Linked DNA regions of Homo sapiens: region 2 is linked to region 1. Evidence: fine-mapped QTL for protein levels in blood plasma. Region 1 holds a variant in brackets. A gene starts in the other region. All regions are shown on their forward strands.

Region 1 (3,024 bases):
CACTGACAACCTTTAAAATGTTAAACTTTCTAGTGGAATAGGGTCCGGAAGACCAGGACTCAGTACTGGCTCTCTGATTTAATTAGCCATGTGATCCGAAGCAAGCTCCTCGCCCAGCTGGCATCCCCATTTCTAAGAATGAAGTTACTAATCTTTGCCCTGCCCGCCCCACATCTCAGGGTGTGCAGTGAGGACGAACAAGGATAAAGTGGGTGAAAGTACTTTGCAAACGGTAAAGTAATGCACACATGCCACTGTGATTTCTGCCGTGTTAATCTCCTACTCAGGCCTTGGAACAGCTGTGTCATGTTCTCTTCGCAGAAAGGATGCATAGTTGGGTAGCCAGGCTGATATCATTCCACCTTTCACGAGGTTACCCTCCCGCTGACCGCTGCTCCTTTCCCATGCATGCTGATGATTTATCTTATAAAAGCAAAACAATGCGTCCTGCCCACTCCCCTGCCCCTACTGCACTTGTTGCTCTGTGCTTGCCTGTTGTGTTTTTCTACAGCACACAAGGAATGGAAACCAAATGCAAGCATCACCACCAATGAACACATGCTTACATCTCTTGCTAGCGATCTTTTTCCTCTCTCTCTCTGCCAGAACTCAAAGGGCACAGTTTTTCTTCTCCGAATTTTTCTAAGCCCTATGCAACATGTAGCTATGTGGTGCAGATAGTCTGAACATAGGAGCAAGCTGTGACTGTTCAAGTGATTGAGCTTTTTCAAAATTATTAGTGATATCCCCAGGACCTCGCTAAAGCACACTGAAAAATCGGCTTACCCTAAAGCTACTTTGTTTAGAAACTGTCTTTGACTTAATCTAAACCAGGATACAAGCCTCCCTTCTGCCAGTTGAGAGAAGTGGCTAGAGGGTAACCAGCCAACTGTCCCACTGTTAACACTGAAGGTCTCACGTCCCCGGAAACTCCTGAGTACCGAGCGAACAGGACAGTTAGACACCCCAGGAGTGGAGCCATACCCTTCCTGCATCTGCACCAACCTGCTGCCCCGTATTTTTCACGGGCTCCAACCACAGTGAATAATTTTCACCTTTCTGTTACTTGCACAAAGCCTTTTTAGAAAAGCATTAAAAAAAAAAAAAGAAAAAAACCCAATATTTTAGCTCTTTCACAAAACACTCTGTCCCCCAGTAAGCTGTGACTGAACTTGAACAGGTCACACCTCCAGAAGACAGGCCTCAGTGCTGCTGACTGCCGCCTCCGAAGCCAGTCTGGGTTCTCGCTGCATATTTAGTATTCAAACCTCTTGATAAATGATCGGCTGTTTTTCATGTTTGGAGCTCTCCCTGAACAATAAAGCAAAAA[C/T]GTTTGTCATCCATAAAGTACAGCTGCAAGAAGTGTGTGGGAGTGATAATTGGATGACACTCCAGGAAGGAGGGGGAAATGAAAACAGCTGTTCCGAGAGGACAACGCGGTGTTGTGCGGGAGATGAGCCCGCGGCCCAGGAGGACTGAGCCCCCTGTGCTCACTGGCCCCGGCCCACGCAGGCTGCATGCCCCATTTCTGCTGCCGCAGCCACTCTTGCTCCACGCCTAGTGCCAGTGAGGGGCAGGCTCCAGCTGGATCGGGGTCTCACGGCCCCAGGCCTCACCCTGCCCTGGCCACAGCAATGCTTTCTGCTCACTTTGGCAGCTGGAGGTAGCCTGAGGGGGAACTTCATTTCTGTTTCCATGAGGGCCACCAAGCTAGGAAAGGCCAATCGCCTTTAACCCCACAAAAAGGCCCCTTTGACAAGTTCCGCTTTGATTCACGGAGGGTTTGGTGTGCACTGCGACGGGCAGCTGTCAAGACAGGGCCTCGGGCAGAAAGACGGAGGGGAACACAGATCACCATGAAGGCGACACCACACATGTTTGATCCTCTTAGCCCTGTCCTTCCCACTCTCAGATTTCTCTCGCACAGTGGTTGAACTTAGAGGATTCCGCAGACAAAGACGCATTTATGCACACTAAGCCCTGCAGGCTCCGCTCCTCTGCTGAACCACTTCTCAAACCCAGTCCCAAAGGCTGAAAAACTATCCCAGAAGTTTTAAGCTTTTCATGTAACATCCTAGACCAGCAACTTCAAGTTCAAAACTTAAAGACAGAGTCCCTACATTTGCACATCTCATGTGCAAGGTATGTGTGTGTGTGTGGTGTTAGTACATATATGTATGTGTTTATGTGTATGTATGTGTGTATCTATATATATGTATGTGTGGTGTGCGTACGTGTGTGTATGTATGTGTGAATATGTGTGTGTGTAGAGTATGTGTGTGTGTTGTGCATACATATGTTTATGTGTATGTACATGTGTGTATGTATGTGTGAATATGTGTGTGTAGAGTATGTGTGTGGTGTGCATACATATGTGTGTATGTGTATGTACATGTGTGTGTATGTGTGAATGTGTGTGTAGAGTATTGTGTGTGGTGTGCATACATATGTGTGTATGTGTATGTACATGTGTGTGTATGTATGTGTGAATGTGTGTGTGTAGAGTACGTGTGTGTGGTGTGCATACATATGTGTGTATTTGTATGTACGTGTGTGTGTGTAATATGGGTTATTATTTTTTTAAAAACCTGTGGAGGATGGTGAAGACTAGTCTTTCTTGATGAAAGGCTGTATCACCTTAAGTCTGGAATTATATATAAGGCAACATCTGGAAATAACATTAATATGTTGTTTAGAGGGCAATTTAGAAAAGTGCCACATGGATCAGAGAAATGGAGTCATCATATAAAAGGGAGAAAAATAAAAGGGGGAGATTTGATTTGAGCTGCTTCTTCTAATGTATCCTTCCCAAAGAACAGGAAGGTGAGGAATGATATTTGCACCTCACCAAGTCTCATTGAGTGAAGGGCTTTAACCATGGAGACTCAGATCTTAGGGGTTCTTAGGTCATTAGGCCCTACGTAGAAAACTGCTGCAACAGTTTAGAAGACAGCACCTGTGTGGTCTAGAGAAGGCTCTATGTGGAGTATGTGGCCAGCTGCAGGAACACAAAGACAGATCAAA
Region 2 (2,500 bases), not on the chromosome of region 1:
GCTCTTGGCTCCCCCTTTAGGGGACCAGGAGGGACAGCGATCCATGGCCAAAGAAATGCTTGGAGAGACCAGGAGGTGGGAGATAGACTGGGTTAGTTAGGGCGATGTGGGGGCTGTGTAGGTCAGTTTCTACCTGGGGGCTGTGTAGGTCAGTTTCTACCCGCTCCTAGGTCTCAAGGGAAGCCCGGGACTCACCTGGGGCCGGGGTCTAGACCGCATTTAAAGGGATGGGGTGCAGCCTGTAGAAACCAAGGAGCCACCCTATACCAGGGGCAGGAGCAGTGGGCGGGAGAGCGGTTTGGGGGTTTGCTGTGTGAATGCAAAGGAGGCCATCCTGTTGCAGGAGTGTGGAACTGGAGGATCAAGGTGTGATCGCTAAGGAATTGGCGCTGGGGGTCGTTTTAGGGCCTAGCACGAAAAGTTGTGCCTTGTCTGCTGTTGCTTCTCCAGAAACCTTCCCTCATGTACGGCGGGAGGTGGGACTGGGACAGAAACTTTGCAGATAGTTTTGAATAGTGGGGTAGGGAGGAAAGGAAAGGCAGCCAGGGGCGTATGTAATCAGCAGTGAGAGTTCGGGGAGCCCGGGCAGGGGAATGTCCCGGGTCGTAGCCAGACTCCATCTCTTTCCCAAACAAAAGAAAACTCCACTACCCGTCGGGCGCCTCTTCCCCGCCCCCCTCCCGTTCCAGCACTATCGGTCCGAAGTGTTTGGGACTGCAGTGCCCGGGTAGGGGTAGTCAGAGGCCGGCCCCTCCACTCCGAGGCCCAGATGTTGGGGGGGAGGTCCCAGGAGTGACGGGGTGCGCCCCCCCCCGCAAGGAAACTCACCTTCCAAAGCTGCGGCCAACGAAGCCCAGCAGAGCAGCACCCGGAGCTCCATGGCGCCGCCTCACTCGGGTAGGATCCGAACTGAGTTTGGGGGGCCCTCGCCCCCCCAGGTCTGACTCTCCCTGGGCGGGTGGACGCCGATACTCCGCGCGGGACTCCTCGTCGGGGCCCTCAGCGCGGGCCCATGCGAGCGTGCGGGGCACCGGGCGGCGGCGCCAAGTGTGGCCCCGCGTCTGTGCCGCGCGCGCGGGCGGCGGGCCCGGAGCGTGCTGGCAGTGGCCGCGCCGGGCGGGCGCGCAGCAAGACGTGGCTGGAGTTGGGGTCCCTCCGGGGCCTCGGGGTCCCGCCCCGGGTGGCGGGGGCTGAGCCGGCCGCTCGCGGTCTCCCCCCCTCCCTGGAGTGGCTCTGCTCGCGCCGCCGGGCCGAGTGCTCTCCTCGCGGGCGGGGATGGTGGGAGCCCGAGCGGGGACGGAGCGGGAGGGAGGGAGACTGCGGCGCGGAGCCGGGCGGGCCGGGCCGGGCAGGGGCTGAGCTGCGCTGGAACTGGGCCGGGCGGCGCCGGGCCCGGGAGGGAGGGGCGCGCGGGGGGCGGGGGCAGCTCTCCCAACGCGGGGGCTCCGCGAGTGAGCCCCGGGCGCGCTGATTGGAGCTCACGCTACTGAATAATTCATGAGGGAAGCGGAGAGGGGCACCGAGTGGAGCAGGTCGGGAAGTTGAGAGAAAGTTTGGAGAAGGGGGAGGGGCGGCGGGTGAGGAACCCCGGGACCGCCCAGATGTGCGCCGTGGCGGTGCGCGCTGTCCAGGACCGAGCATGTCGGGGCTGGGGCCCAGGGACCCCCGGGACAGGCCCGAACCCGGCTGGCACCAGGGAGCAGAGAAAACACACACCCAGCAGCAACACGGAGGGCCGCCCAGGCGTGCACGTAAATGTTCACCGCGCACACAAAGCCCGCTCTGACCTTGCTGCGGACTCTAGATGCCGCTCTTGGATGCGCCCACCACCCTCTAGTGGGCGCAGGGACTGCGTTTTGGGGGAAAAGGAAGGAAAAGGGAGTAGAAGCTTTGGAGAATTGACGGCCGCCCAGGGGGCCTCAAGGAGCAATCCCAGTTTGGATAGCCTTGCAGCGAACGTTCACACAGTCACCCCATAAACATTCAGTGTTGGGGACCTACTGTGCGCGCAACCAAGCCCTGAAAAATGTCCAGAGGAGGCGCGCACTAAGCTGCGCTAGGGAGTAGAGAAAAATCGAGGAAACAACGGTAAAGAAAAGGTGGGTGTGGCGGGCGCGGTGGCTCACGCCTGTAGTCCCAGCATTTTGGGAGGCAGAGGCAGGCGGATCATTTGAGGTCAGGAGTTCAAGACCAGCCTGGCCAACATGATGAAACCCCGTCTCTACTAAAAATACAAAAATTAGCTGGGCATGGTGGCGCGCGCCTGTAATCCTAGCTACTCGGGAGGCTGAGGCAGGAGAATTGCTTGAACCGGGACCTAGGAGGCGGAGGTTGCAGTGAGCTGGGAGCTGAGATCGCGCCACTGCACTCCAGCCTGGGCTACAGAGTGAGACGAAATCTCAAAAAAAAAAAAAAAAAAAAAAAAGGTGGGTGTGTCCGAGAGGGTGAGGGGTCCGGCTAGATCTCCAAATCGCCCTTCTCACTCTCACTCTCGTGTTTT

Direction of the effects. Alleles are on the strand shown, and positions count from the first base shown. The strength of an association depends on the size of the effect and on how common the allele is.
For the plasma level of the protein whose gene starts at base 1,373 in region 2, C is the high allele of the variant in region 1 and T is the other (moderate association).

What was found. PIP is the posterior inclusion probability: the model's chance that the variant is causal. The UK Biobank Pharma Proteomics Project read protein levels with antibody pairs (Olink). The fine-mapping took linkage between variants from a reference panel, not from the people measured, so its PIPs are less certain.
Region 2: EPHB4 starts here. The variant in region 1 is fine-mapped to the plasma level of the EPHB4 protein (UK Biobank, PIP above 0.99).

What each region holds. Positions count from the first base shown.
Region 1 is chr13:105,996,414-105,999,437 of GRCh38, forward strand. No RefSeq gene overlaps it. Among named protein-coding and RNA genes, the nearest start is that of LINC00343, 290 kb to the left of the region's middle. The variant C/T (reference allele first, on the strand shown) is at 1,331.
Region 2 is chr7:100,826,151-100,828,650 of GRCh38, forward strand. It overlaps EPHB4 (EPH receptor B4), which reads right to left and starts at 1,373. Exons shown (of 17, transcript NM_004444.5): 1 at 829-1,373. The coding sequence starts at 880. It also overlaps a transcript of SLC12A9 not described here. RefSeq lists an enhancer at 1,377-2,172.